3 separate regions of the Homo sapiens genome follow, and regions 1 and 2 are each linked to region 3. The links come from fine-mapping of genetic effects on gene expression. A gene starts in region 3. Each other region holds a variant in brackets. All regions are shown on one strand. Distances are between the middles of the regions. Region 1 overlaps PYHIN1 (pyrin and HIN domain family member 1). Region 2 overlaps IFI16 (interferon gamma inducible protein 16). Region 3 holds the start of IFI16 (interferon gamma inducible protein 16).

Region 1 (11,085 bases), 37 kb after region 3:
GCCCAAACCCGCAGGCAGTCAGAGCTTACGGTTGTCTTCCCTAAAAATCGCTACTATTCTGTTCTTTTTCAAGATGCACTGATTTCATATTTTTCAAACTCACATGTTTTACAATCAATCTGTACAGTTAACAATTATCACAGTGGTCCTGAGATAAGATACATCCTCAGCTTATGAAGATAACAGGATTAAAAGATTTAAGTAAGGACAAGCATAAGAAATTATAAAAGTATTATTTGGGAACTGATAAATGTCCACAAAATCTTCACAATTTATGTTCCTCTGCTGTGGCTCCAGCCAGTCCCTCCATTTGGGGTCCCTGACTTCCTGCAACAAATCATGTCCTTTGCAGGAACATAGATGCAGCTGCAAGGCATTATCTGAAGCAAAATAACACAGGAACAGAAAACCAAATACCACTTGTTCTTACTAATAAGTAGGAGCTAAACATTGAGTACACAAGGACACAAAAAGAAGCACAATAGACACTGGTGGTTTACTTAAAGGTCGAGGGTGGGAGGAGGGTGAAGACTGAAAAACTACCTATCAGGTACTGTGCTTACTACCTAGGTGACAAAATCATTTGTATGCCAATCCCAGCAACATGTAATGTATTGATGTAACAAACCTGCACATGTAGCCCCTAAATCTAAAATAAAAGTTGGAAGAAAAAAATATGAATACCATATGACCCAAGATTTATTCTTCTTGGTATTTATGCAAAATAATTAAAATAGGAGTTGAAGAGATATTACTAGCGCTCCCATGTACATTACAGTATTATTCAAAATAGACAAGATGTGAAAACTACCTAAATGTCCCAGTTTTGAATGAATAGATAAGAAAATGTGGTGTGTATATATAATGGAATGTTATTCTTTCTTAATGAAGGAAATTCTGCAATAGTTACAGCATGAATGAAATTCTGCAATAGTTACAGCATGAATAAAACTTGAGGGCATTATGCTAAGTGTAATAAGCCACTCATAAGAGAATAAATACTGCATGAGTCCACTTATGTAGAGTATCTATAATAGCCAAACTTACAGGAGCAGAAAATAAAATGGTGGTTAGCTGGGGCTGGAGGAAGGGGGAAATGGAAGCTGCTATTCGATGGGTATACAACTTCAGATATGCCAGATGAATAAGCTCTGTAGATCTGCTGCACAACACTGTGCTTATAGTTCCTAATACTGTATTGTAAACTTGAAATTTGTTAAGTGGTTGATCTCACGTGCTCTTATCATCATAAAATTCTAATACATGCCTCACTATGTGGTTTTAGAGAAATAATGTTGCTAACAGTGTTGGATTTGCCTCTTCCAATCATAATCATTTGCTAATACACTAGAGATCCTCTCAGAGCTATTTCACTGCCTCTTGCAGAGAACCACTTGGTACAAACTGATCTCTAAGATGTCTATGAGGGTAGGTTAGATCTCTGTGAGCTGTTCTGTCTTTCTCTTTGGTTCACACATTTCAAAGTTAGGGGAAGCCCCAGATTCTCACCTACTTGTGGTCCCAAGTAGGAGCTCTGATGTGTAGTAAGATATAAAAATATAAGATAGAGTGGGGTCAAGGCATTAGAGGTTGACGCTGTTTAAATTAAAACACAGTGAACAGGCTAATTCTTTCGGGTGGAAGATAATTTCTTTCCTATCTCATTTACAGACATGACTGTCCTTAGAAGTTAAAATTTCAGGGAGAAATCAGCAAACACATTAGACAAAGCACCTAAATGACCCATTCTCTAACTGTTAATTACCATCATCTACATACTCAAGAGTGGTCCATTATACCTAGTTTATGTAAAGTAATATGAATATTATGTATTTGAGTAGCTCAGAATACCAATATCATTTGCATATAAAGCAGTTATTTTCTCAGTGTCCATAAGTCAAATTTGAATTTGGAGGATGTTTTAGCAGTTTGTGACATCTTCTCAAGATGAAATCTGTTTCCTAACTAGCTGAATGATGTGATTTTGACCACTTCACTCAATCTCTGAATTTCAGTTTTTTCACTGCACATGAGGAAAAAATTCGGTGGCTTCAAAACATCCTTCAAAATTTGATTTTCCCAAGTGAACCAAATTATCATATATATATATATATATATATATATGTATAGACACACACACACATATGAATATTAGCAATGATATTTGGCAATAAAGAATGTCTGAAAAAACTTATTCATGGTATCTGAATCTATCATACTTTCTTACCTTTATGTCTGATAAAAGACATAATCGGAAAGGTGCAGGGCAAGAGGAAAAAAAAACTACATTTATTCCTTGGATTGTTGGTCCAAACCATAAAGGCAGAACTTTAATGCCTCTTTTCCTTAGATTAATTGGGCATATATAGCTTCAGATCACCACAGTTCTCTGATGAGTACAGAAGATTGCTATTTTGCATTTATCTACTTTTTCATAATTTTAAGGGTGAGAGTGAGGCTCTTTTCAGCTTTCTCCATCTTAGGTGGAATCCGTCTTATTCATTGTTTAATTTGCATCTTATCCCTGTTCTCCTAACATTAGCACACCTAACCCAAGCCAGAACAACAGACCTGGATGTTAAATCAAGGACTATATAAGACCACCTAAGTGTCACTTCGAAAGTAAATTTGCTTTCTGTGCCCTTTTTTCTTTATATATGGAGAGTAAAAAGGAGAAAACTGTCAACCTTCTAGAGCTACGGTGAAGATTAAATGACACAAAATAATTACACCAGGTGCCAAATATATGATCCATAAATACATTGTAAGTTTTAGATACTGACTTTCTGCCATTCTACTCTAAAATAAATTAATTATTCTTCAGTTTGCCTAAGTTAACTGTCTGCCTGGGCAACTTTCTGATGGATTCATATAGTGGAATGTGAGAAGAGGGAATATGGTGGGAGAGCTCCTGAGGAGCTGTTGGTGCTGAAGGAAATGTATAGAACCAGATAATTTACATCAAACAGGGCCAGGAATTCCTCTAACATAGGCAAGTGCCTTCATGCACATCACCAGAAAGTGCCTGGTTTGGCAAGAAAATTACCCAATTATTCCCCCTCCAGGAGTCCAATTCTGAAAAGATATCTCTAGTTTTGGCTAGAGCAACTCCTTCCCAGGACACAGTGCTTGCAACAGAATCACAGGCTGGATTTCACCCCTACCTGCCCCTTGGTCTGGATTCTTTGGGCAGGGCACAGTCAGTTCAGTCTTAACCAGGGCCTATTCCTTAAAGATCCCATCCAAACTATAAATCTGTGTGCCCCACCCTGACTTGCAGGCCACAGTTTATTTGCTTTTACATAACTCACAGATAGATTAAAGAAACTCCTATGGAAGCACTCTTTAAGAAAAAAAAGTTTATTTTTTTTCAAATTATGAAAATTCTGAATGCAAAATATGATATGAAGAAAATGCATAAAAGTAAAACTAATGAAATAAAATGCACCCTTAATACTCCATTTCCTAGAATTAATAGCTGGTATATATATATATATATATATATATATATATATATATATATATATATAGTATTTCAACCAGATATATATACATATATTATTTTCTGTGCTTTGATCTTATCTTCATAAACATCATTACCAATGGCATCAGGTTTTTAGGTGGAGGACTTCAGGCAAAATTTCCACACTTGAGTAAAGATTGAACAGTAGTTATTTGATATCCTTGTCCTTGGTGACCTTGAAGCATAAAGAGATAAAAATAAACCCGTTGAGATGCAGGGAGTCATACATTTCTTTCTTCAATCACACTGCCTCTCCTCCCTGTGAGCCACATCTCTTCTTCTATTTCCATCTGAAGCACTCTTTTCTCATTCTCATCTATCTCCTTTAATGAATCCTGTCCTTGGAGTCACATCTTCCCCCTCTGTTGGGACCATGAAATGCGATATTCACTCCTACCCAGCATGAGCCCACGTGAAAGGGCAGGAGATGTCAGGGAACAATAAGATAGAGAAAGGAGCTGGTGTGTCCAACGACAAGGGCTAAAGGGAAACTTCTCATTGGGCAGAAAGGTAGGAGGAGCGTACAAAATGTATTCCTGGTGCAACTGCTGTCAAGGAAGGCTTGGGACTTTTGACTAATGGCCCTGAGAACTGGAGCAATCAGAAAGCCTTTGCATTTTTGTGTGTCTGAATGTGTTAGCCTTTATTCTGATCTTTTTGCATTCCAATATTAGCCTTTATTTGTTCCAAGAATCCCACATGAATATATGTGACAAACAGCATAAACTTTGTCATGTAGATCCAACCATCTCTGTCTACACAGAGATGTTTCTCACAAAAGACAGCTACCTTTGTGTTCTGATTTGCTTAGGGACATCCTTGGTAATTTAGGACTGTTATGAGGTATGTTGGCCACCCTCAAATTTAACTCCCTCTTCTGTTCATTGTGTACCACAAATAATTGAATGAGCTAATATGTGAAACAATTGGATTATAAAGGATTAATGAAGATAATTATTGAAAAACCCTTAGAATAGTCTGAGTCATTCTGCATACTCAGTAAATGAGAGACATCATTATTTCCATTCTATTAGGTACTTTTAGTCACATCCACTGTTTTAACAACTATGTCTCTATTGATGTAATTCAGTAAAAGGCCCAGCCAAAATTACCCAAGTTTAAGCTCTATATATCAGATGGATAATTCTTAGATGTCCTGTGGGAATCTCAAACTTAACTTGTCTAGAGCAGAACACGTTTTTTCCCTGGAACATGGTCTTTCTACTGTGCTCATAAGAGGTGTATTGAAGAGTAAATGCAATCATATACATAAAAACATAACTTTCACTTCCAGCTTTACCCAGTAGAAGCTCAGTTAGAAAAATATTGTTTTCATTGTTATTTAAAGACTATGCAAGTTTTTTATGTCAGCCTGATCCAGAAATGAATTATGATTTATGTTGATCCTCTTGTGGAAAACCCAGATAAAGTTGTAGTGATTGGGAATAAAACTAATAGCTTCGTTTTTTCCCATATAGTAATTCTGAGCCAGTAATATCTCCATTTGTTTTCCCAACCATTCTGGGCTCTTTGATTTAGGAGAGTCATGACAAAAGATGAAAAATAAGAATGGTCTGCTTTTGACTTTAAATCCAAAAGCATAGAAAAATTTATACAAATTAATAATTAATACAAACACAGTATTATTGGGATGATCTATGATATACAAAAGCAAGGACTTCTTTCAGAGCTAGTGAATCACAGAGGAAGTAACAGGATGTATTTTCCAGGCATCCTGTGGAAGTGCTAGATATCAAAGAAGAAATGGCTATATGGGAGGTTAGGTGTAGGAGACATAGGACCCTAGCTGAGATTCCTGGGCTAAGGGAGGTTTAGATGCAGTCAAATAAATCTAACGGCTATAGAAACAGACCATAATGCGTATTTAAAATGGTAGAACCTAGGCAAACTTTGCGTAGTCCCTTCAAAGCCAAAATGCAGGAAAAATAAGTTCTTTTCCAGAATGTTGTCCTGGGATGTTCAATTATGTCTATTAAGTAACAGAAAAGTGGGTCTGAGCTGGTAATGACTACATATGCGTTCCATCCATGGTCACCTAAGCCAAGATGGCTAAAGAGGACGTGCTAGCTTTGACTCTCAAATAAATTACATATAATTTATTGAGGAAAATGTGATTCTCGGGCTTATCAAAAACAACAAAAACATAAACAAACCAAAAAACGACCACAAATTGAGAACTCCTGTATATAGGTAATCTGTCTTCAACTAGTCTGTATGGTGACATGTCTTCAACTAAAAGAGTGGTGACATGATTCTCCTCTTGCCTTTCTCTTTCATCACCTTCCCTCTCACTGTAGATCATAGTCTTCTGTTCCCTAGGTGGAGGTGACTCCACTGGTCATATCATGACCAAAAGCAGGCTGGGATTCAATTGGAACACTTAGATATAAATTCATTAGTTCACCTTTGTCTGATGTTCTCTGGACAAGAAATCTATAAACTGTACTTATTATCAAGTGTGGTTGAAAAACACTTTATTATTAGAATTTTAATAAATGTTCTAAATAAAATAAAGAGAAATGTTCAGGACACCTTGGCATGATGTGTTCTATGGCAGGAGGAGAATATCAGTGCAGTATTTTTCTGAGGAAGGGGGATTTTGGTTGGCCCAGAAATATATTGGGGCAAATGAAGAGATGAGAGTAAGGGATTCTAAAAAAAGGAAGTAGCATATGCCAAGACACTAGCTATGGAAAGAAACAGGGATTTTGAATATCAATCCTAAGTTATGGTCATTAGTCGTAGTGGAAAATTGTGAAAGGAAACTGGAATAGAAGGTACGAACATACTGTTGTATTCATCTCTCCTTGTCTGGATACCTCC[T/C]CACATACACCATATTTGCACCAATGAAAAACAGTAATCTTCCTGAAGACAGAAATGATTTCATGAATGCATATTTTGTGAGTATTGAAGGACTTAGAATCCAGTGGCATGTCCAATTATATATTGATAAATGAATGAGAAATGTAGTAAAATAATGAAATAATATATAGTCAGAATTTAAATGAGAATCCCTTTGAAGACTCTGATTACCCCTACAATTATATTTTAGAGGTACAGCAATGCAAATAGAAAGGTGGTACCTTATTTAAGGAACTGCTGGATGGCGGTTGGTGGAAGTGTCAGAAGAAAGAGGAGGGGCCACAGTTGGTGAGGTGATTCTAAAGTTTGCAGGCGATGACTGTGCTCCTGGGTGGGTTTCATCCTTCTGGAGTCATAAATTTGGGTAATTTAGTCTTTCACTTTATGACAGAAAGAACTGGTTTTTTCTGCTTAATATTTTCCTATATAAGTTGGATGTAATACATGTGTGTATATGTGTGTGTGTGTGTGTGTGTGTGTGTGTGTGAAAATCCCTTTTTATAGAATCTTCCCTCTGCTAATCTCTCTGGATGCTGGCATACATTTAGTTTTCTTAACCCACATTTCAGCATACACAGAAACTAGCATATAGTATAAGAGAAAATGGATCTGAGCTGGAAATGATTAGGCATGGGGTCTATTTGAGGCCACTTCTGCCAAGATGACTGCCTGCTTACTGATCCACCAGATAAAATCTGTAGACACTCTTCAGGAAAATATGAACTTTGGGTAACAATAACAAAATAATAAAGAAAAATCCAGTCACATATAGCAAACTCCTGTAAAGAATAAGTCTGTCTTCAACTCATAGGTGTGGGGGAGTCACTGAGGCTGTAGGCTGGGTCAGTGTGGATCTTGGGGCCTGGGTGAAAAACTAGATGAGAGAATAAAGACTTAATACTCCCCTTTTCTTTCTCTAAGTTGACTTCTTGTTCACTGCTGATAGAGGGTGCTGTGGCACAGAGGCAGGTGACTACACAGTCCAACTTACTGGTAAGTAAAAGGCAGCATGGAATAGGATTTCATACACACAGATATAAACTCATTCATGGACCTTTGTTTTTACTTACCTGAGCAGGTAGCATATATAATCTCAATTACTTACAGGGTTGAAAATATACTATAATTACTGTGGTGACAAGTATTATAAAGGAAATAAATGGACATGTGAAGGACACAAAGAGATGATCTGTCTTATTTTTGGATGGGGTTATCAGGAGGTCTTGCTTGAAGACAGTTTTAGGCTGGCCCAAAAATATATAAAGGCCAGTGAAGGAATAGGAGAAAAAGATTCCAGACAAAGGGAGTACCATGTATGAAACAAAAACATGTAGGAAAGAGTAAGAATGTTGAAAATAAACTGTGAGTTATGGTTCTGAAGCAAAAGGGAAATCTGTGAATGAACAATGAAATGTAAGAGAGGAACACACTCTTGTATTTCTTCATCTTTGTGTACTCTCCTCCACTCTTTCTCTATATCTGGATCATAAATCACAATAATGTCTTTAGGTCAGGAATGATTTTATCAATGTATCCCTTGTAAATCATAAAAATCCTAGAATCTAGTAGCATCTCTGATTATATACTTAATAAATGAATGAGAAATATAGTAAAATAAAAAACTATTTAGTCAGAGATTGATTGAAAAGCTCTGTCAAGATACTGATTATCCCTTTAAGTATAATAAAGGGAGGCACAAAGAATGGCAACAAGAAGTTGGTACTTTGGTTAAAGAACTACCAGATGGGGTTTGTGACATTTTCTGTGACATCTGAGGATGGTTCAGAGTTGGAGGTTCTCCGATGACTGAATTTTACCTATGCAGACTATACACTTTGAAAGGATACTATCTTATTGGAGTCATATGTTTGGGTGATTCTGGCATCTGTGTTCTGAAGAAAAGATCGACTTTTCTGATTAATGGTTTCACTATGAGATGAAGCCTGATTATGTATCTGCCTCTATATCTATACGTATCTATATCATCATCTATCTGGTTTGATTTTTTAATTTATTTTTTTCTTTTATTCTTTTTACATTGTCTTCCTTCTTGCATTTTCTCTGGCTAGCAGCATAACTTTAGATATCCTAACCTCTTCACCTGCACATTCACAAATGGCATTTTGGCCTTCGTTTTATTGACTGAAATTCTGTAGGTGTGTGATTGGGTCCTGGCTCTGTTTCTGGTGAAAACTCATCTAGGCTAACTTGGTCAAGCACCTCTGCTGGAGTTATTTTTGTTAAGTAATGCTCCTAAGTTATAAGGGTAGTAAGTTTCAGAACAATGTTAGCCAAATGGATGAAAGCCATTTTCATCAAGCAAATACACAAAGGATTCCTGTAGTTTGCACTTCAGGACCCAGAAAAATCAGTTGTCAGTTGTTTGGGGATACTGATCTTCATTTTGCTATCAGCACTCTCTGAAAGCACAGTTCCAGTCAGGATTCTGTTTATCCAGTGATTTGCATCAGGTATCCAAAATCCTTCAGGATTCCCAACAGCAATCACAACCGTTTCAGATTTCACTAGGGCATTCCCAGAACATGTCTTTATATATATATATATATCTTGTTAATGTAAGGATAATGGGTGTCTGGAAAATCACATGTGATTCTCTCTAAGCACTAAGGAAAGCACTTAAGGACGTTCTACTTCCAATATCAAATCACTCTCTTTACTAAGGAAAATAATTAAGGACATTCTACTTCCAATATCAAATCACTCTCATTCATTTCTATTTGTAGATTTCCATAATATTTTTCTTTTGTCCTTAAGGAGATGGAAGGAAAGTGCTGAAAGATCAGTTTGCTTATGAGGGTTTCCAAGTGAGGACAACAAACCCTAGCCATCTTGTGCACCTCATCCTGTTTTAGAAGCTTGAAGAGTCTGGATTATAAAAACAAATGTAAAATTCAACACTATTTGAAATGCTTATTGATATATTACAGATATTTTAATATCTACTCTCTCTCACTGGAAGAAACATACTCCCTCAACTACAAAAACTTTTTAGTTGACTAAGTTGAATATGAATCTTTCAACTAATACTAATTATCTTTATTAGCTTGGGAGAGATTTCTAACTTCTCTGAACCTCATGATTCTCATATGTGAAATGAGATATAGGTTGTATCTTCATGGATATGCAATAAAGAATATATGCTATACATTTTATAATAAACACAGCTTTACTTCAGAATCCAGTAAATGCTCAATAAGAAGAAATATCATTATTATTTTCATTGTTATAGTATATGCAGTGTTTGTGTGTTTGCTCTATTCACAGATATTTTATGCTTTATGTTGACCCAGTTGTAGAAAATCTCATTGAGGAGGTATGGGTAAAATATTAAATAAGCTAGTCTCTATTCCCTTCTACCAAAGCTAGTAGTCTAATCTCATTGATAAAAGTGAATTGAACAAGTATCTCTTCAAAATAAGTCAAAACTGATAAGATCAGATATTACAGTTATCTTAGTGGAAAGGCCAAGAAGTGATATTGGACGTAGAGGGGATGTGATAATAGACATTGGAGACTCAGAAAGGTGGAAGTGTGGGAGTAGGGTGAGGGATGAGAGATTATCTAATGGGTACAACATACACTATTCAGGTGATGGATACACTAAAAGTCCCAACTTCACCACTGCGCAATTTAACCATGTAACAAATCTGCACTTGTACCCCCTAAATCATTAACAAATATACATAATAAAATATAAACAAAAACATTTTCATTACAGAAGCAGAATTTGGATGCCTAAGATCTTAGCTTTGGTTGAATATTAATTTAAATCATTGCTGATTATTTTCCTCATAGTAATTTCTCCCTAATAGCATCCCTGATCATGACTCATGCCATTCTGTGATCTATGCTTTAGATGAGTCATGACAGATGGTCATGCTTCTGTCTTCTTCGGGGTTTAGATCCCAAAGCATAATGAACCTATATCATACACAAATTTTTGAGTGAACCCTTGATGAGTAAATGGGCAAGGCTTTCCTGCTCACCTGGTGAATCATAGATTGAGTGGTGAGACAACCTTGGAGTGGGTCACCAAAGCAGAAAAGGTCCATGATACATTTAGGTGTAGGTGGCCATGGAGATACATGCCTCTTTCTAAAATTATTGTATTAAGGGAGTTTATGTACAGCAGAATAATTCCTATGAATGTAGAAATGGCTGTATTACATATTTAGACAAAAGAACTTAGAAACTGTCACTCCATTTTGTCTAAGCCATTATGCGTCAGAAAATGGATTGTCTTTAAATGTTTGTCTTTGAAGTAGCAGAGAGTAAATGGATCAGAGCTGATAATGACCAGGAATGGGCTCCATCTAACCACCTGAAGTAAGATGGCAAATAGGTTAGATTGATAGCACTATCCACAAATAGTAATTTTAGAAAGTGTACAGAGAAATATGAATTATTGGAATTCACCAGTCAAAAAGAACAAAAGCAGCAACAAAACAAAATGTAAAAATGAGAACTCCTTACATAGGAGTCCTGTCTTCAACTGGTACACATGTATTAGTGATGCAGAAAGAAGGTTGGTCAGAGTGCAATATGGTAATGGGTAAGATACTAGATTGGAAGATAGTGACTCAGTTTTCCTTTTACCTTAGCTTCAAGTTGCCTGCCCATTTACTGAAGATATAGGCATCTGATTCATAGGCCTTAAC
Region 2 (11,085 bases), 39 kb before region 3:
TTATCCTTATTCTAATGGCAGTTAGATGCATTTCTTTAGAGGGGGCAATGAGACAGCCAGGTGGGAAGGGGTCCCCAGAGAAACTCCAGCCTGCACACTGGGAGGAGTGTGCACTGGGGTGAAGCCACAGAAGTTTGCGCCATTTCCAGTGGGGAAGAGCCCAGCCCCTCCTCTTCCTGGGTGGAACCTGAAATTCAAACTGCCAGGTGGGAAGCCCACAAGCAGGGAGTCTGGCTTTGCAGAAGGACCGTTTCCCTCTTTTCCTTTTCACCCAATAAACGCTGCCCTCCTCACACTTCAAATTGTCTGCGAGCCTAACTTTTCATGGCCCCATGATAAGGATTCCCATGTTTAGCTGAACAAAGGAAAATTCCTGCAACAGTAGTAGACTTCCCCATTCCATTCCTCACAGCTTCCACCACATCCCCACAACCCTCTCCTAACGTACACACCCCAAACGAGAAGAGCAGCCTGGGTTCTAAATCAAGCTCTCTAATTTACCATCTAAGGGTCATTAAGAAAGTGACTTTGCCTTTCTATTCCGTGTTTGTCACATATTATAGGGTGAGTAAAGAGGAGAAAACAATCAACCTTCTAGAACTAATATGAAGATTAAGTGTCACAAAATAATTGCCAAGTACCAGGTACCAAATATATAATCAATAAATTTAGCTAAATTTTAGTTTTAGATACTTACTTTCTGCTATTCTATTCTGAATAAAATTAATTATCTTCAGTGTTTGCCTAATGCAGCTCTTCCTAGGGCAGCTTTCTAATGTATCAGATCACTATAGTGGATTGCGAGAACAGGGAATATGGTTTGAAAGTGCGTGAAGAGCAGTCGGTGTTTTGAGGAAATGCATAAAACCAGATATTTCACATCAGGCAGGCCCAGATATTCCTCTAACACAGACAAGTGCCTTCATGCACATCACCAGAAGGTGCCTCATTTGGCAGAAAAATTACCCAATTATGCCCCCTCCAGGAGACCAATTCTGAAAAGATATCTACTGCTCTGGGCTAAAACAGTAACACAGCACTTGGCAACTGAACCACAAACTGGATTTCACGCTTACTTATCCCTTTAGCCTGGTTTCTTTCAGCAGAACACAGCCTGTTCATTCTTGATCAGGGCTTTACCCGGTAAAGATCACACCCAAAGTATAAATCCAAATATTGCTTGAGGCCTGTGTGCCCCACCCTGATTTGCAGACCACAGACTATTTGCTTTTAAGCAACTCATGGATGGATTAAAGAGACTGCTGGGGAAGCATTCCTTTCACAAAAAAGATAATGTTTATTTATTTTTTCAAATTATAGAAGTTGTAGATGCAAAATATGCCATTTTATTAAAAAAAAACTATGAAAAATTAAAAAAGCACTCCCAATACCCCATTCCATAGGATTAACAGCTAGTATATATGGTGGTGTGTATGTATAGTGTTGTATTTCAACCAGGTATATGTACATTTTTTTAGGCACTTAGACCTTATCTCCATAAACATTATCGTCAATGACATCCAGATTTTAGAAGAAAAAGTCTGGTGAAGTTTCCATACTTGAATCAGGATTGAGTATGTCTTTCTTGTTTTTCCTGGTCTTGATGACCTTGAAGGAGAAAGAGATAAAGACAGACCAGTTGAGATGCTGATGATCCTACATTTCTCCCTTCAATCACACTGTATCTCCTCCCCCTGCACCATATCTCTTCCCCTATTCCTTTCTAAATGATTCTTTTCTCGCTCTCATCTATCTCCCTTAATAAATTCTTGACCTTTGAGTCATGCCTCTCTGTTTAATTTGGACCGTGAAATGAGATATTCACTCCTACTCAGCATGAGTGCAAGTGAAAGAGCAGGAGATGTCAGGGAACAACAGGAGAGAGAAAGGAGCTGGTGCACCCAATGACAAGAGTTGAGGAGAGGGTTTTCATTGGGCAGAAGGAAGGGGGAGAGTACAAAAGGTATTCCTGGTGCAATTGCTATCAAAGAAGGTTTGAAATGTTTGACTGCTGGTCCTGAGAACTGGAGCAATCTGAGAGCATGTGTGTGCCTGAATATGTCAGCCTTTGTTTTGAACTATTTGCCTTCTAATATTAGCCTTTGTTAGTGTTCCAAGAATCCCACATGAATGTATGGGTCAGTGTGGCAAAAAGCATGGACTTTGTTATGTAGACCCAGCTACCTCTGTCTGATGTAAACCAGTGTATGTATCTCACTAAAGGCAGGTACCTTTGTGATCTGATTTGCTCAGATGCATTCTTGGTAATTCAGGGCTGCTGTGAGCTAAGTTGATGACCCTCTATGGTAGACAGTATTTCTCCCATTTCACAAATGATGAACCTGAGATTCCTAGTGTAAGTCTTTAGTCAACTAGAAAGTCACAGAACCAGCTAGTTGAAACAAATGTGCCTTAACCAAACCCAAATTCTTATTAAATTATCTCCACATTGTGGTAAAAGCAACCAATTCTTTCTTATTTAACTTAGGTATCATGGCCTTTGAAAGTCTCTGTAATTTTTTTTATTATGATTACAAGTATCCTTCTTTAAAAACAATGGTGGGAAGTTTACACCCAGTAAAGTGCAAGGCTTTGTTCCTTTTCCACTTGCTAGACTCTCTGTAATAGTAGCAGTCTAGTCTTCTTAAAGTATAAACAAAATGATTCGCCACTTGGAAAAATGATGTTCCTATAAAGTTCCAACCTTGATGTGACTATGAATTACAGATCTCAACTCCCCGGTATTCCCACTTTTCGGTGCCAATTCAAAGCAGGTGAGTTTCAGTTTATCTCCTTCCTCACAGTTGATTGTGGTCAGTCGTCCATGCACCACCACTTCCATCTTCCCTGTATTATCTTGTATTTCATAATAAGTGAATTCACCCCTTACATTTTTCTGCAAAAGAAAATTAACACTTATCTTCTGAAACTGGATCAATAATTTTCAAATCTATGAGAAATACAGGGTGTTTCTGGAAACTTTTGTCTTTGATAGAGTAAACAGAGCTGTAGGTCCTGAATAACAGGTACCAAATAGCTTAAGATACTTGGTCTTTGAATCCTGCCTTTCAACTCCTCCCTTGAGCCTCTTTTGTTGAAGTTCTTTGTCTGCTGGATTTTTTCTAGGAAAAAAAATTGATTACTTTCCTAATTCTTCCTGTTTCCACATCAGCACAGCTGGGATTTTTTAAGGAGCCTGGATACAGAAAAATCTGATTAATTTGGTAGGTTTCTTTCACACCTGCCCAAGAGCAGAGAATAGAGGCTTTTTATGGCACTTTGTAAGTTTGAGAAAGAATGTTGCACGTCCTCATTAAGTAGACTGTTATTTCAATATGTAACTACTTCTTTCTTCTCCATATAGTCACTCTTTCCCAATCTGCCCAGATCTCAAATCTAGATCATCCTATCTATCTAGTCACATTGTTCTGGTTTGTAGCTCATTATTCATTAACTCTACAACCACATATATATGTACAGTCATTTAAACTGAGTGTAGAGAAAACAGCACAATTAAAAGTAAGCCACCCTAGAAGACATGTATAATGGAGTATGAAACAGTACTTCAAACAAGAAGTTAAATCAGCTAAGCATAATATTTACATGATGTGTAGAGACTGAAAGGCACACTGTAAGCCTAAGAATTCACCAAGCTTTTTTTCTTTTTTTTGCATTTTATTGCCCCATTTATAAATTGAGCAGTTAAGCTACGTGACTTTTTTAGTCTTTTTGCTTCGTATTTCTCTTATTATTTAATGCAGAAGTTAGTTGCTCTACAGTCTCCTGATGAATTAATGAATGAGAAGAGGCAAGAAACTTTGGAGTCCAAATGATCAGAATTCTAGCTAACTGTTAGACATAGCTGCATTCTAAAGCAGAGTAGTCTATTTTATTTCTTACTCTGGTTGTCACAATCAGGATTCAGGCTTGGGAGAGCAACTCTTTTATTCACAATTAAATTAAGTTGTCATTGATACAGATGGAGAAGAACTCAAAGAAACAAAATCCTAAGGATATGTGTGTTGATATAAACTCTGCACTGTCCTGGACAAGGGTGGCTCTGAATAGATCATCAAAACTAATAAAATGCCAAGTTTCCTAGTGACTGTCTAAATAACTTGCATGATGATACCTTAAGAAGAGGAATGTTACAATATAACGTACCCCATATCCTGAAATGAACTCTATTCAATTATCTCTAGTGCTGGGGGAAGGGTGAAGGGGTTGATTTTCTGTGTTGAGTAAGTTGACCAAACTCCAGTTGACAAGTTAAGACTTTAAAAATTGGAGGTTGCAGGAGAAATTTTATAAAACAATGGTGTGGGCTTACCTTATGTACCTCAAACACCCCATTCACAAAACTTCCTTTAGTTTGTGAGCAAAGCTGATTGATTTTAGGAGTTACGCTGGCACTTCTAATCAATCCTTTTGGGATCTCCATGTTTCGGTCAGCATTCACATCAGCCACAAGTGTGAAAGGATATACCTCCAGGAACCCATTGCGGCAAACATAATTTGCTATGGCAATGATCTTCTTTGGGGTGAACTTCTCCTTTAGGTCAATATTAAAAACCTTCACTCGGAAGACTTCATTCTCAGTTGCCACTGTGGCATGAAACATTTTCTTCTGCTCTTTGGGCTCATATACAAATGATTCTGTTGCGTTCAGCACCATCACTTCTTTGAGGTCACTCTGGGCACTGTCTTCTATGGAAACTTCTTCAGGTTCAGTCTTCAGTCTTGGTTTCAACTTAGAAGGTAGAGACCAAAACATAGGCACAATTAAAACAGGAAAAACAGGGTCATTCTCTAGTGAGAGTCATCTCAGCCTCAGTGTTGGTCCTCAAGTATCACCTTAACTGGGTAAAGTAGGGAAAACTAGACAAAGATCACTGAGATAGTATGATTTAGGTAACGGAAGAAATGAAAAAGATGTAAGGAGTAATTTTATTATCTTCATTGTTTTATGAGAGTGGAAGGAAGAATATTTCTTTTTTAATGAGAATTAACCCATAAAGAAAAGGCATATCCCCTATCAAGAGGTATGGGGAAGCAGAGGGTAAAGGCAAAGCTGCCATGAAGTGACTCCCAAAAGAGATGAGATTTTAGAAGAATCTCAGTTTTACTCCTTTCTACCCAGGTCAGGTCATATTGAGCACTGCTGGTCCGTGGAGGCAGCTGTCCTGCCTCCATGTTCTGGTCTCTAGGACTCCCTTGATCCCTTCTTGCCTCCATACTTCCTCTTCCAGATCAGCAGCCCCTCCAATTCAAAGTGCTCTCCTACAACTCAGAAATAGTGCAGGCCACTGTGGAGAGAGGAGGTTAAAGAAAAGTTCCCTCCTGCCTAATATGACAGTGACCAAATAAAATAAAAATAGAGAAAAAAATCATATTACTAGCATTCAGAGTAAGGAATAGTCTCAACCACAAACCTTAGATTTCATGAGATTTCAGTTGGAACTCATTCTAGTAGATAGGGGCATTTTAAAGAACCAAATTGCAAAGCCCTTTCTAATGAA[G/A]CAGCACTATGTTGCAAAAACATCATTAAGGCAGCCACTGGAAGACTCCACAAACTTTCCTAATCTGAAGGGGCCCAGGTTAGAGGCTCTCCAATCTGAATAATGGCAGGAACTAAAAAGAGTCATGGACGTGAAAAATTAGGCGGGAGGGGACTTTTCTTTAACCTCCTGTCTCCACAGTGGCCTGCACTGTTTCTGAGTTGTAGGAGAGCACTTTGACTTGGAGGGGCTGCTGATCTGGAAGAGGAGGTATGGAGGCAAGAAGGGATCAAGGGAGTCTTAGAGACCAGAACATGGAGGCAGGACGGCTGCCTCCACAGACCAGCAATGTGATCTGACCTGGAAGATGATATTGGCCACCTGTGAGTGATGGCTTTAACTCTGATGGACTTAACTCTAATGAACTCATCAATGTGGCCAATTTTCCATAACATTAGGAAACCCATTCCCAATGAAGTTAATCAGTATCAAATCACCTCACAATAGCCATGACATCAGTACCCTGACACAAGGTGCACAGAACCTAAGGAAATAATTATAAAGCTACTCTGAGGGCAATGAAAGAAGATCTGAGAGACATGTGATCTTATTATGTTCGTTGTAAATACACAGAATACTGGAAACAACATAAAGCCAAATAAAAAATGATCATTTTTATAATGTATGGAATAACTGTGCAATTTTTCTAGTACAATAAAATAATTTAAATCTATATTGTATGATTGCATGGCAGTTCACGATATATTAATAAAAAACATGGGTTATGGAAAAATATGTGAATGTGATTTACTCTGAGAGAAAATAAGACTCTTTGTATATACATACTGAAAGGTATAAAATCAGAAAGACCATGTACTGAAATGTGGCATTAGATAGAGATTTCTGACAGTTAAAAGTTATTTTTGCTTATGTACCTTCCTTTCCTAAATTTTTAAACATATTGTTTGAGTTATAATAAATGAAAGGGGAAAAATCAGTGATAGTGTTATGGGTGGCTCTGTTTTTTCCCACCTTGTTCTACTTTAAGGTATGATTTTCATGATGTATTGAGGGAAAAACAAAAACGTAAGCCAAAAGAAAAATAAAATTAAACAAACATCTAATTATACCTGTTATGGAATAGAGATGATAAAAACAGAATTTTAATTTTGGATAGGACCTCAAAATACACACTTGATAAATAAATGACTGATTTGGTTAAATTAAAGCATTGTATGTAGTAGGGGATTGGTGAGGTGCTTTCACGGTTGTGTTAATCCTTGTCATTATATAGTAGCGAGGGGAATGTATTGGGAAGAGGGAACTTGTACCGTGGTTAAGAAACTGCTGCTTGGTGTTGATGGAGGCATCTGAGGAGTGTGGGGATGGCTCTCAGCTGGGCCTATGCTGGTCATGAACGGTCCTGGAAAATGACTCCCTTCCTTCAGTATCTGCATCCTCATGAAGTCATTCATTTTGGAGATTGTGTCTTCACTTTTCTAAAGGAAAATAGATGTTTGTTCTTTTTTTCTAGTTAATGTTTTTCAAGATCAGATGAAACACATCTTTTCCTTTTTTCTTTTTTAAATAGGATGTTCACTTTGCCAGTTTCTCTGTTTTTCCCTGAGTTGCAGGAGGAATAATACCACATATTCAGATACTTCTATCACTCAGCCTTCTCTCATCCCAGTCAGGATTAAAAACTCAGATAACTGAAATTGCATTGTCTGGGGATGGAATACTCAGTCTTCACATCCTGTAAAACTGGACTGAGTTATTTGGTCAGGTACAACTCTTAGGGCTATTTTGGGGGCAGCATGGCTTGCAATAAAGTTGGCTACATTTATGGACATTTATTAACTAGGCCTTTCTCATCAATTAGATACACAAACCAGTCTCTCTCAAGTGCTCTTCAGCATACAAGAAACCCAGATCTCCATCCTTTAGGGATCTCTGATCGTAGCCATAACAGGAAGATTCTCTCAAATTCACAATTCCTCAGGGAAGGTTCTATGATCACTACAGTGTGGATCAGGCTATCAGAATCTTTCAGGGTTTTTAGCTGTATTCAGAACAATTTAATATTCCACCTAAAGCATTCCCATTAGCTATATTTTTATACATTTTTCAAGTAAGACTGGAGAATATCTCTAAAATCACATACCTTGACTACCTTTAATTAAACTAATGGAAGTCCAAAAAATATTCACCCTATTTGGCCAATGTGGCACATTATTTTAGCAGTTTTGCCATTCAGTAACCTAATTTTTTAAGTGGCAATTGTTGATAGAGAGGTACACAAAAGAACTGCTTGTAGTGAGCTCACATGGAGAACAGCTTCTTGATTAGAACAGTCTCTGACCACCACTGAGCACCTGGACTATGGAAATAAACCCCAAACAAAACACTGTATTTTCAAAATTGTTTAACATTTGCACACCTACTGTGGATTCAGTCTATGCTCATTAAAGGTTCACATTTTAAATGTTAACATTTTAAGTTCAATAAGGCTGCATTTGAATCCTGACTCTAATACTATTTGTGTGACCCTGAGGAAGATTTCTTTGCATCTCAGTTTTCTCACATGTGAAGTGGGACTAGCCATAGCATTTTTGTATGGTGTTATAAAGAATAAATTAGGTAATGTGCACAAAGAATGGGTTTTAGAGTCCAGAGCTCAGTAAATGCTCAATAAATAAATCTTTGTTGCTATTATTTTTCCACGATCTATTAGGGGTTTGCGTGTCTGCTCTGATGAACAGCTATTTCATGCTTTATGATGCCCTTGCTGATGGAAATCTTGTATGGAGGTAATATAGGAAGCATAATAGGAGAGAAGCCCCTCTCTTCAGATCTGCCATGTGTAGCAATGTAATTTTATTGACAAGATTGTCTTGAGATATAATGTTTTAAAAATAAGTGAAATCTTAAACTGTCATCACAGTAGCCCAGTTTGGATGATGAAATTATAATCTTTGTTTGAATAATATTTTAAAAGTGCAAGCATTTGTTTTCCCTCAGAATAAATCCTCCTCCACCCTACCCTGTTCATGAATTATGCCCTTGTGTACTGTTCACTTCAGGATACGTAACAGCATAAATCAAAGGTAATAGTCTGTTTCCGGCTTTGAATTAAAGTCAGAAAGAACTCTATTATAGAAAAACTACTTGGGAGAAGCTGTGATGTATAAGAGCAAGGATTCCCGGCTTACGTTGCGAATCACAGACTGATTGGTCAGACACCATTTTTGCAGGCCTCCTGTGAAGATGGCTGGATCCCAGAGAAGAAATGACTACGTGGTGTATGTTTAGGTGGATGAGTCTGCCTTGGATCCTGAGCTTTCAGAGCAGCAGAATGATTCCTATGCAAGTAGAAATGATTGTGCTGCATATTTAGGCAGGCAAGGTCTTAGAAAGTGTCACTTCCAAGCCAGTATGCATGGACAGAGTAGTTGTCTTATGATGTCTATGTATGTCATTACAGTAACAGAGAGACAGTGGGCCTGAGATTTTCATGACTACACATGGGCTCTACCTGTGGCCTTGATGGTAAGTCCCAAGATGGCAACAGTTACAAGCAGCTAGTTCTGCCCAAGAAGAACCAGGAAAGACTATATAGGGGGAAATATGAAATCTTGAAATTAATAACTAAAAAAAAAGACTGTCTAAAAAATTGAGAAAACCTGTATGTAGAAAGCCTGTTCTCAACTGACGTGTGTGGATGGTGCTCGGGTCCGCAACCTGGGCCGGGGGTAGCTTGGGGCTTGGGTGAGAAACAACATTGGAGAATAGTAATGTAAATCTTAGTGTTCCCTATCCCTCAAGTTGCCGTGGGTCAGTATTTCCCTGCCCATACCTTCCCTGCCCATTCGTCTTGGGTGTAGGCCCCATAGCGCTGGATTGTAGGTCATACAGAGGTATCAGGGCAGAACAAAAGGCAAGCTGGGATAAGGGTTGATAACACACAAGTGTAAATTCACTTTCCCACCTCTGTGTTATCTTCTCCTAGGAAAGGGTATCTATAACCTACATTTATTGCTGAGTAGGGAAGAAAGTCATAGGTTTATTATAGCTATGATAAATGCTCTAAAGAAATAGAAAGGTACCTATGAAGGCAAACAATGAGAAAATATGATCTATTCTGGGAGGAGGGTATTAGTGAGAACTTGCTCAAGGAATAGATGAGACTGGTACCTCGTGGTTGAACTTATTTGGGGACAGAATTGAGATGGAAAAATTTGATATCAAAGGAAGTATCAAAACCCTTGATGTGGTTAAGAGCATGGATAGTGAAACTAACCTCTGATGTATGGTGAGAGAGCAAAAGAGAAAGGATTGCAAAGAAACTGGAATGTAGAGGATGAACATATTGGTAATAATAATACTGGTGGAATTGTTATTCAGGAAAAAATAGCAATTATTCCTGTTCATATCTCAAATCATTGTATGTTGTTTATTTAAAGGGAGACATGGTAGAAGATATCAAATATAAAAATGTTATCCTTCTGGTTTTCAAATCAAAACCAGGAATAACGCATATCACACACAAAACTCATCAATGTGGCCAATTTTCCATAACATTAGGAAACCCGTTCCCAATGAAGTTAATCAGTATCAAATCACCTTACAATAGCCATGACATTAGTACCCTGACACAAGGTGCACAGGACCTAAGGAAATAATTATAAAGCTACTCTGAGGGTAATGAAAGAAGATCTGAGAGACATTTGTTCTTACTATGTTCATTGTAAATTCACAGAATACTAGAAACAACATAAGCCAAATAACGTAGGATCATTTTATAATGTATGGAATAACCATGCAATTTTTCTGGTACAATAAAGTAATTTAAATCTATATTGTATGGTTGAATGGCAGTTCAAGATATATTAATAAAAAGCATGAGTTATAGAAAAATATGCGTAATGTGATTTACTCTGAGAGAATATAATAAGACTCTTTGTATATACATAATGAAAGGTGTAAAGTCAGAAAGACCATGTACTGAAATGTGGCATTAGATAAAGATTTCTGATAGTTAAAAATTAATTATTTTTGCTTATGTACCTTCTTTTCCTAAATTTTTAAAGATGGTATTATTTGAGTTATAATAAATGAAAGAGAAAGAATCAGTGATAGTGTTATGGTTGGCTCTGTTTTTTCCCACCTTGTTCTACCTTAAAGTATTATTTTCGTGGTGTATTGAGGGAAAAACAAAAAGGTAAGCCAAAAGGAAAATAAAATTAAAAAGATATCTAATTATACCTGCTATGGAATAGAGATGATAAAAATAGAATTTTAATTTTGGATAGGACCTCAAAATACACACTTGATAAATAAATGACTGATTTGGTTAAATTAAAGCATTGTATGTAGTAGGGGATTGGTGAGGTGCTTTCAAGGTTGTGTTAATCCTTGTCATTACATTGTAGTGAGGGGAATGTATTGGGAAGAGGGAACTTGTACCGTGGTTAAGAAACTGCTGCTTGGTGTTGATGGAGGCATCTGAGGAGTGTGGGGATGGCTCTCAGCTGGGCCTATGCTGGTCATGAACGGTCCTGGAAAATGACTCCCTTCCTTCAGTATC
Region 3 (10,842 bases):
TTAATGCAGGGGAGGTTGTTTAATCTACAAGAAAAAGAGCTGAGGGTATGGATAACCTCATTCACAAACTAGCAGGTGCTGGAGAGGTCTGACATGGAATACTATAGTGAACCAAGGGAAGAGGTATGAAGGACATGGGAGCAGTAGACAGTGAGCCCACAGCTGACAGTTCTGTACTGCATAGCTCTCTCTCCCTTCCCCAAACAACACAGAACAGAAAACTTCCTGCAGTCAGAGATAATGTCAAGTTCATCAAGTATCCCTGTGAAAGCAAAAGATCAAAATGTAGTGGTTTCTCAATATGTACATTGGATTAACTAGCAAATTATCGATGCAATTTTTAAGTAACCGGTGAAATCAGTCCTTTACTTTGGGTTGAAAAAAACAAAGCAAAATGGGACCAGGAAGAGTGTACCTCAGTTGAAGAACTGTTGGGTGGAGCTGACAATGAGGTCTTGGGAGATGGGGAACGGCCCATGGCTGTGGACATGCCGGCTCCTGCAGGAGAGGGAGGCTGAGTCTGTTCCTCGGACACCTTACTCCCTTTGGGTCCAGCCTTTTCTTTGGTTGATTTTTTTCTTTTCTGAAAGTGGTTTGATTTTCCTGTTATTCGTTTTCAGTGCCAAATGAAGTAGAGCACATTTTCATTATTGGATAGTAGTTTTATTATTCCTAAGAAGATGTTTCTTGGAAACTTGAGAGGTTGCTGCCCATCTCTCGCCAGTTTAAGAGATGGGCATAGATGGTTTCATTAAACGAAGAAAGAGGAGAATGTTATACACATTATTTCTCTAATTATTTCTGTTATGGGATGTGCTGACTTGGGATTAGAGAAACTAGGTTTTTATACACATGGACAAAGTACTTACCTGATTCTCACGTTGACACTCCACTCTACTAGAATGAAGGTATCACATTTATGTTATATATATTTACATTATGTTTACTCATGTGTTTGGTGCATTGCTTTGAGCATCAATAAGATGATCAATTATCATACAATTTGGTAAATCTGAAACTTGATGGGAAACATGAAGAAATAACTGCCTGCTGGAGAGATTGAGTGGAAGAGCCGTAGCAGAGCTTCCTCTGTGGGACTTGAAGCCTGCTCCTCTTCCTGAAGCTTACCTGAGCTCCAGGAGTTGCCTCTGCTCCTTCAGTTTTGACAGTGCTGCTTGTGGAGGGTGCAGGTGAAGTAGCATCCACTTCCTTCTTCCTCTTTCTTGATAGGGCTGGTCCTTTTACTGGAATAGATTCAATTTTATTCCCAACCAATGCAGAAAAAAGGAAGACATATAAACGATCTCCGACAGCTGAAGCAGTTTCAATACAATTTGCTCTCAGTTCCTGCTTGAGGGTTCAGCTGTGCTTTAGTCTAGCTCTACTGCATTAGCCCAGCCTGGCCTTAAGGAGACCAGCAGTCACAAGACAGGAACAAGCACTGACTCATGCTCCTCAGCACTTTCCTCACTCCTCCCCTGTGCACTGAGCACATGCTTCCTGTTCTCTGAACTCCATGTGCTTCAGTTAACCCTTTCCCAATGCGGTTCTCCGATCATTTTGTTTTAAAAACTAATGTTTTCATGATGGAGACTGCTAGGTCACATTCCCCAGGTAAAGATATTCAAATTATAGAAACCAGCCAAAGGTTTCCATGAGGAAGGATATACTGATTTTGGACTTAGACTTTTTCAAATCCTTTTTTTTAACTTGATATAACAAGAGAGGAGATCACACTTCTGAGAGGCAGGCTCACATGTAAGTATTGCATTTTTTTAAATTATAAAGGGTAGTGATGGGTTAAATGGTCTCAATAGAACAGATACATTCATTGGCTAAATGTACATATCTTGAATTTAAACAGTTTTTATGATTTTATTATTATATAATCTTTCTAATGTACTGGAAGTCTCAGTCCCCCTTCAACTCCCTCTCACTTTTGTTCTTTCACTGATCCCAAATATACATTCTGAAATACTTCAATCTACACCAGTAATGGAATGCACTAAGTTGTCAACTTGTTGGCCTCTGAAGTACCAACATTGTCTCAGCTGTTGAGTCACAAACTGGGGAAAACACATCTCAAGTATGTCCGAGGTGGGGCTCTAATCAATGTTGGGGAGGGTTTGGGGATGGTTGCAGGGAGTGGGTGTTCCCTCTTCCCAATTACCTTTTAACTTTTCTTTTTTAAGAGTTTCAGCCAGGTCTTCAAGCGTTGGTATATCTTCGAAAATTTTTATTAGTTTGCCCAAACCAGCATCACCTCGGAACTTTTCTTCCATCAAGTCAGCAATCTGAATTTTGTCATACTCTTCTCTCATTTTTAAATTAAGTTTTAAATCGTTGCTCAGTAAGGACTTAACCATTCTAAAATGATAATCATTGATGACCTCTAATCCTTTTAGTAGAACAATGTTCTTGTATTTTTTTCCCATCTTTACAGACATAAGTGAGCCTACAAGAGAAAATGGTATATACAGTGTTACACATGTATACAGACAATTTAAAAGATGTATGCCTATGTGAGTGAGTGGCCCATATGAAAGAGTTGTTCATGAATATGTGTGATAAAGAAGGACTCAACGACCAAATGTGTTACTGTAGAAATTGAGTGAAGAACTGCTGGGTTAGGAATGTCTAAGAAATTATTCCCATTGAATGAGAATAGTTGAGTTGGGTCCAGTTGTTAGAGGGAGGTCTGAGAACAAGCAATTGCCTCAGTGTTAAGAGTATGAGCTCTGCAGTGTCAAAGCCCTTGGTTCCTCTTCTTATCCTTTACTGGGGCTGAAGCCTATTCCCCAAATCCTGCCTGTTGTTTCTTAAATCTTCCCACACCCAGTATGACTGGAGCGGCCTAGGTGTAAATGGGCTGCAGCCTCCCACCTTATATGAATAACTTTCTGCTACAGCGCTACAGTTTCATGCTGTGGCACTGACCCTATTCTCCTTGACTCTTCCCTAGTTGGCTTTCATTAGCATCCTCCCTTCTTTGGTGCTAGACCATGGCTTCTGTTCTCTGTACCCATAAAACCATAACTTTGCTGAAAATCTGCATGCTTTCTAGTGCAGCATCACAGTATTTATTCACTGAAATGATTTTATTGGTTGTTTTATTTTTCTTCTTTCAGACTTGATTTGTCTAATTATTTCTTTTCGCACAATCAGTTTTCTCTCGATAAGCCACATTTATATTCCACTGAAATCCTTCAATATTTCTCCTTTTTCTTCCCCAAAATTCCTTGCTTCCTATACTGTCTCAGAAAGTGTTGAATAAGCTGCATCTTTTTTACTTCTAGTACCTTTGTACTCCTTGTATCTATGCTTCACAAAGATGCCGGACACCTTGTGTCTTCATGCCTCATGACTTTGCTAGTTCCTTCTTACTGCCTGGAAAGCCATTCCCACATTTCTTTCTTTGACTACTTCCCATACAACCTTAAGACTCAACTGAGGCTTTGTCTCATGGTAGATTTCAGAGTCTCCCTATGGACAGAGTGTCACTGCTCTTGACCTCTTAACACCTGTACACTTCCATGATGACAGTGCAAGGTATGGATTCCAAAACTTTTAAATTAATGAATTTTTTAATTTTAGGAATGATGTCTTTGTGTATAACCAAGATATCTAAATTTCAGGGGCTATTAATTGGGCCAGGCGCAGTGGCTCACGCCTGTAATTCCAGCATGTTGGGAGGCCGAGGTGGTCGAATCACAAGTTCCGGAGATCAAAAGCATCCTGGCTAACACAGTGAGACCTCGTTTCCACTAAAAATACCAAAAATTAGCCAGGTGTGGTGGCAAGCGCTTGCAGTCCCAGCTACTCGGGAGGCTGAGGCAGGAGAATTGCTTGAACCCAGGAGACGGAGGTTGCAGTGAGCGGAGATCGTGCCACTACACTCCAGCCTGGGTGACAGAGTGAGACTCCGTCAAAAAAAAAAAAAAAAAAAAAAAAAAGCTTCCTTCTTACGAGAACATGAGGATCCTTGGACTGAAAAGGTCCAGAGAATGAAGGGAAAATCTATACAAAAACACATTATAGTGAAACTGAAGAATATAATGAACAAAAATACTCTGTAAGCCTTCGGTAATGAGGAATAGATCACCTACAAAGATTCAAGAATCAAATTGAAAGTGAATCTCTATATCAAAACTGCCTGAAGCAGGACAATGGAGTTATTTTTATATAATGTTGGTCCAAAGTTCCATATCAATTGCAAAACCAAAAAAAATTTTCAATGGAAAGTTTTGACTTATTTTGTGAGTGTGCTAGAAACAATAAGTTCGTCTTCAAACTTTCCTGTTCTTTCCTGTTCTGTAAACAACCCTTCCTTCCTTTGCCGCCCCAGACATGCCTTCCCGCCTAATTGGTACAGGACAGTGTCTTCCTTCCCGCCTAATTACCCCTATAGAATTTAAAGCAGTAGCCAATCCGGTCAGCTTAGAATGTGCATTGTGACTGACGCAGGCAGCACCCTTCTGTAGAAGCAAATATGCTTTGCTGAGAAATTTCCTGTTTAAGTGCTGGTTTTTCTTTGTGGCACTGAGCACTTGTTTCCAACAAGTGTGACAGCACAATTTATTTGCAAAATAAAACCAGATTTGGGATGACAGTAGGCTATGTATAATCTTTATTTCACTGAAATGTGAACACTCACATGTTTTGTTTTGCAATATTAGTGCTTTTGATTTTGGAGTAATTATTTATATCCCAATGGAGTTTCTAGTAAGACACTATTTAGAATATATACACTAAATAGCCTTTCTGAAGCCTCCAGATTCTTAACTTCAAAATGTATCTAGCTCCACAGCACAGAAGAGGTGCTTTCATCTTGTCTTAAGGGAAAATATAATTTTACATTTTAGAGTTTTAATTTAGGCAAAATGATATTTAAATAGAAGAGTCTCAAAAACTATTTTGTGATACTCAGGGCCTCAGTCTTTTTGCAAGACAAAGACTCATACCACAAGAAAACATCTATTGAAAATAATATTTAATAGGAAAACATGAATAAAATTAAAAATTCTGCCAGCCAAAAGATAAGAAGAGTGAAAAATAAACTTTTTTAGGTGTTCCTAATGTCTTACAAAGAAAACCCTGATCAAATATAAGAGAAACAGAAATTACAACAGCATGGTAAAGGGAGGGAAGAAAAAGAACATGACAATTCACTAAAGCAATTGTCTTAGATAGTGAGATGATATAGAAGTGTCATAAATTGAAGTAAAGACAGCAGATTGTTAATTACCAGCATATACCTAAAAGGTCTGACCTGTTAAGTGACAACTTTCATCAAATTTGATTTAAGAAATCTACATATATATTGTTAACAAAAGGTGAAAAAAATTGTTAAAAATTATCTTGCAAGGAATAACTAAAGAAAGCCAGTTTATCTATGTTTGTGTAATTTTAAATATACCTTAAGCCCAAAAGTAACTTCAGATACCACATGATAAAAGTTTCAACTCCTAGAAAATTATGTTTTAGTTATGAATTTATCTAATTTATCTAATGATATTATTTATTATTTTATAGTGCTTCATGGTACTATAATTAGTATATATTTCTCTTCATATACACACATGTACAGACATCACTACACACATATATGTGTGTACCTGTTTGTATACATGATTATATATACATATATTTGTGTGTGAATGTATATTATATATACACATAACATGTATGTGATTGTGAGAGCACTACAAAGAAAAAAAATTTTTTTTTTTTTTTGAGACAGAGCCTTGCTCTGTCACCCAGGCTGGAGTGTAGTGGCACAGTCTCGGCTCACTGCAACCTCTGCCTCCTGGTTCAAGCGATTCTCCTGCCTCAGTCTCCTGAGTAGCTGGGATTACAGGCACACATGACCATACCCGGCTAATTATTGTATTTTTAATAGAGACAGGGTTTCGCCATGCTGGCCAGGCTGGTCTGGAACTCCTGACGTCAAGTGATCCGCTCGCCTTGGTCTCCCCCAAAGTACTGGGATTACAGGCATGAACCTCTGTGCCCGGCCAAAAAAGCAAACTTTATAATAGGAGATTTCAGTTTATGCTTCAATTACTAAATGAACAAGGTGAAAAAATCTGTAATGATATAATAAATTTGAACAACGTAATTAACAACATTTATCTAATAAAATTCTGAAAACAACATTTAAGAATCTCACATTCCATTTAAGCACACATGAAATATTGTACCAGGCTATAGAAAACATCTTTTAAAAATTTGAAAAGTAAACAATAGTAACCTTTTCCTAACTGCCTTCCCCTCCACTCCCCTATACCTTGCCACAAGGAAAAAAAAAATCATTAACTTTCAGGAGGGCAGAGAGTAATTCCAAAATGATTGAAATTCTGCCGCTAGCACCCGGTGCAGAATGGAGCTAAAGTAAAGGATCAATATACTTATGAAAATATTAAGACACCATGTGCTTGAGTAACTGTGTTTGTGAAACTGAAAAAAATTTTCTACTCTGTGTACATTTGTTCTTATGTTTTGTAAAATTGGGATGATGTCATATAATACATCTCTATGCTCAGATATGTTTTTTACTTAATATTCTTTCATGATACTTTTTTCATGTCACTATCTTGAGAACCCACCACAGCTACCGAGTTTCCAACACTTCTTCCAGCCAAAATAACAGAAGCCCTCTTCTAAGTACCAACTTATGCCAGTATACACTCGGATAATTAATTTTAAAATCTGCAACGGTCAAAATGCATTTTCTCTTGTTCAGTCCTCAGTTGTGGTGGAATAGAAGATGCCTGTTATCTTCCTAAGTAAATGAAGGATTCATATCAAGCAACTCAGTTTTCACTTTTCTGAATACTCAGCCCTACTCCCATCATCCCATGACCCTGAATAACCAATACTGATTGTCCCCTTGTGATTCTGGGGACTTCAAGGAAGGAACAAGATCATATTTACAAAATCAGGAACAGTACTCACCTCACTGGAAATTTTTTCAACAGTAGTCCAGATCTTGAGATCTTCAGAAATGCAGGAATCAATGCTTATTTGTGTGAGGGGGGAGATAAATCAGTAAAGTTCCCAGAAACGGAACCGCAGGATGTTGTAATCTCCAGAAACGCTAAGAAAATGAAGTATCTGCAAAGATAACAAGGAAAAAAGGCCTTGGTTGAGTCACTTAGTTAGCTGACTAGTGCTGGCTTGCTCCTATTCTGCTATTGCCCCAGAGAAAATGGAGTAGGAAACAATGTGGAGACTCCTCCCACCAGTGTTTTTAGCTTTCGTTTCTGTTAGTCAGAGAAAATGAACAGTTTCCTGGCAAGGGCTGGAGCATGTGGTGAGGGGAAATGGGGGATGAGAAATTACTTTAATGGGTACAGTTAACATTTTTCGGGTGATGTGCACACTGAAATCTCTGACTTCACCAATATGGCATATATCCATGTAACGAAATTACACTTGTATCTCATAAATGTATATAAACACAAATAAGTTTTTTTTCTTACAAAATTCGATAGCTGAAAGGAGTTCCAACATTAGAACTTTCTTACCCAGCAGACTTACATGTGAGTCATTAGAGACTTATATTCCCTTAAATGATGCTCAAATATAAGAGAAGCAACATGGCTTCTTCTCCCCTCCTTTCCTGTGCACAGAGTGGCAGTGGCAGGAGGAGATCTTGGTAGGAGCATCTATTGCTACCAATACTTTACTGCATCTCCTGGTTGGGGAAATGTCTGCTATGAAATCGCTATTTGTTTAAATACTACCTGAAGTATTCATCCAATTATTAATAACTGACAAGCCTGGGCTTTCCAGATCAGAAAGTCATTATGAATATGTAAATCCTTCCTTAAATTTATATGAAGGAGTTTAACACTAGCTGTCCTCTTGACCATGACTAGGTTACTTTACCTCAATGATTAGATTCACGAATGCTCAGATTTTCTGCATTATTCCTGGATAAACAAACGTGGATAGTGGACTCTCAACATGACAGCATCGAAGACTTGAAAATCCTGGAAAATGCACTGAACTTCCGGTAGTGTGAGGAGTCTGTTTAATCCTCTGCTCAGCAGTGTATTTTTCTCTGTTAAGGACAGTGGGTGCCCTTTAGCGTGCTGTAACCCCAGGATGTCAAATAAATGGCATCAACTAGCAGATGATGTGGTGTTAACCCAGCAGCAGATCTGCAAGCAGGATGTGGTCATGAGTGGAAAAGGGGCCCCATAGACTGTTAATATGTACTGTCCAAGGCCATCTACAGAGCAAAAGAAAGCTGATTGTTTTAATCCAAACTAGGGCCATGAAGTGAATAGCTGAATTCTGGATTTGAAACCATATGAATAACTTTATCAAAAAAGGAGTAAGTCAAGAAAAAGCAAAGAGGATCTGGAATGATGGCCATAAACATCTCTGGGTGTTCGTGATAATCTTTTACTGGCTTTAGGGTACTCTTTACGTGGATACATTGAGTTGGCCTTAAGGCAGTAGGTAGAGAAGGATATTAAGGCAGTCACTGGGAACCCCAATCCAGAGGTCAAAGGGTAGAGAACCCTTGGAAGTTATGACCCTTCAGAACATTTTCTGCCTTTTACTTATAATCATTTTATATGCAGTAATGTCCTCAATTGGGACTCCAGCATACAACACACAAACTGCGGTCACCTATAAGGGCAACTCAGGACAATGCTCCATAATTCATACCACAAAGATGAAATTTTCATAGATGAAGCAAAGAAATGCTTAAAAATGTGCATTTTCCCCCACTTTGTGGCAGTGGCCAACAATTGCAATTTGTGCTATCATACAGAAAAGTCATTAGTAGAATATACAAAAATTCCTGATAAAGCAAAAAATGTGCGAATATATATACATATATATAAATTATGTAGCTACATTATTACAGTGACTAAATTTATATTAATCAGGCATTATTCTGAATAAAATCTCTCAATTATGTACCTATTTTTGAACAATGAGTGTTCCATTTCTCTCTTTATGACAAAAAGCAGCTTACTATTTTACCTTTCTGGCCTCATTTTCCATACTGTTCCACATATACCAAAGTTTTAGCTGTGCAGAAACATTTATGTCACTTCACACTTTAGAGTATTTGTAGGTGACATTTCTCCTGTCAGTATTGCAAATGTCTTTACCTTGCTAAGAACAAAAAGACCTATTGCACACTGGTTTTTCATGATGCAATAGACTGTGGCATATGCATTGTTCACTTGTTTTGCAAATCAACTCTATGCAGCAAAGTTTCCCCTTTTTAGAGAAGACTACTATCTTAGTTGATTTGGGTCTTCTGGATGCTGAGGGTTCCAAGATCAAGGATGGCCAACTTAGTTTCTGGTATGAGCCCTCTTCCTGGCTTGCACATAGCCATATTTATGCAGGGTCCTCACCTAGTGTTGAGAGAGAGAGAGAGCACTCTCTGATACCTCTTCTTATAAGGGTGCTAATCACATTATGAGGACCCCACCCTCATAAACTACCCACCAAAGGCCTCGTTTTCAAATATCATCACACTGGGAGGTTATGGCTTCATCATATGAATTTAGATAACATAATCCAGTGTGTAGCAGTAATTGAAGCTATTTTCTAAAAACTAGGCGCCTAGTTAGTGTTGGAGCCAAATTCAAACCAGATCTACCTTATTCCAAAGCCCATGCACTTGAATGCTAAGCAAAATTACTTCCTTGATTTACTAATTTCTACACATATTTTTTTCTTTAGCAAAACATCCATGTCCTTTTAAGCTTGTGTGAATGTCATTTTCTTCATTATTTCTTTACAGATTCTCCACTTAACAATATTAGCACAAGGGCATTGTTTGGGTTCTCATGCTTCCTGCTGGGGCTGGACCTTTGCTGTTAAGACACAGAATCTGATTTTCCCAAAGCCTAAACCGAATTATTTTCTTTTTTGGAATACTAACATTTGTCTCTCCAACTCTCACATGAATGGAACCATGCATTTCAGATAATGGCTTTGATGTTTTGTCCATTGATTCTCAGTTGAAATTAGAAGTCAAAGTTTATCTTTTTCGTCACACTTGGTTTTGTGCTGTTTCCTTTTCCCCAATACTTCCATTTTTCTCTGTATTATCTTGTATTTCCTAGATTGTGTTCTACTTAACATATGTATTTGTGATTAAAATTAAAGTATATTATTATATGATAAGGTAAAGGCCAATTCAATTCTATAAACAGTCAGAAATGCGAAATAACACAAAATTACGGACATAAAAGATGGGAGAAGTTTATGGTGCAAATACCTATCGCCTTGGTCTTTTTGTTTGTTTGTTTGTTTTTTGGCACTTGCACCAAGGGTGAATGTAGTTAAACAGGTGGTTATCGGGAAAACGCCCTGCTGGACTAAGAACCACCCTATATTGAAATGCCTAACCTTGTTTTTACTCTAACTCGTTACTTTGAATTTTGTCCTGCTTGTCTCTTTAATCACCCAGCCTTGCTTCTCATGTAAATAAGACTCTCTCTAGCTGGGAAGGTCGGACAAACTCCAATTGACCCCTTAATTTACAAGACACTAAGGGCTCCTTACCCAACCCCCTTTAGTAAGGAGTTGGCCTGGGTAAACAGATCCTCAGCGTTTCAAAAGAGCCCAATTAACTGATAAGGTAGTAACACCAACAATGTATGAAGTTCCCAGGCTTTTTCTCAAAAAGATAACAACATAAAACCTTGAGTTCGTGTCCGGCATAGACCCTATATCTAATTACAATGAAAGATTTACAACCTTGCACCTGGTACCGTTGCTCTTCTTGTAACCATTTGTCTTTTAAGGCATGTTTTTGCTTCTGTAGAATTATTGCATTTGAGTCCCCCTCCCCTTCCTAAA

The links.
Region 1: its variant is fine-mapped to the expression of IFI16 in whole blood (TOPMed, PIP 0.98).
Region 2: its variant is fine-mapped to the expression of IFI16 in whole blood (TOPMed, PIP 0.94).

The regions. Positions count from the first base shown.
Region 1 is chr1:158,969,314-158,980,398 of GRCh38, reverse strand. PYHIN1 (pyrin and HIN domain family member 1) reads right to left here. Exons shown (of 9, transcript NM_152501.5): 8 at 6,628-6,752; 9 at 3,340-3,698. The coding sequence ends at 6,633. Among named protein-coding and RNA genes, the nearest start is that of PYDC5, 28 kb to the left of the region's middle. The variant T/C (reference allele first, on the strand shown) is at 6,368.
Region 2 is chr1:159,045,344-159,056,428 of GRCh38, reverse strand. IFI16 (interferon gamma inducible protein 16) reads right to left here. Exons shown (of 12, transcript NM_001376587.1): 8 at 10,965-11,085; 9 at 6,830-6,997; 10 at 4,331-4,750; 11 at 2,705-2,896; 12 at 1,278-1,608. The coding sequence ends at 1,528. It also overlaps a transcript of AIM2 not described here. Among named protein-coding and RNA genes, the nearest start is that of AIM2, 26 kb to the left of the region's middle. The variant G/A (reference allele first, on the strand shown) is at 5,520.
Region 3 is chr1:159,006,274-159,017,115 of GRCh38, reverse strand. It overlaps IFI16 (interferon gamma inducible protein 16), which reads right to left and starts at 7,209. Exons shown (of 12, transcript NM_001376587.1): 1 at 6,955-7,209; 2 at 2,171-2,455; 3 at 1,129-1,244; 4 at 416-583. The coding sequence starts at 2,435. It overlaps LOC124904432 (a long non-coding RNA gene), which reads left to right and starts at 3,066. Exons shown (of 2, transcript XR_007066671.1): 1 at 3,066-3,549; 2 at 3,636-4,609. RefSeq lists enhancers at 900-2,099, 7,273-7,352, 10,680-10,842 and a silencer at 4,391-4,500.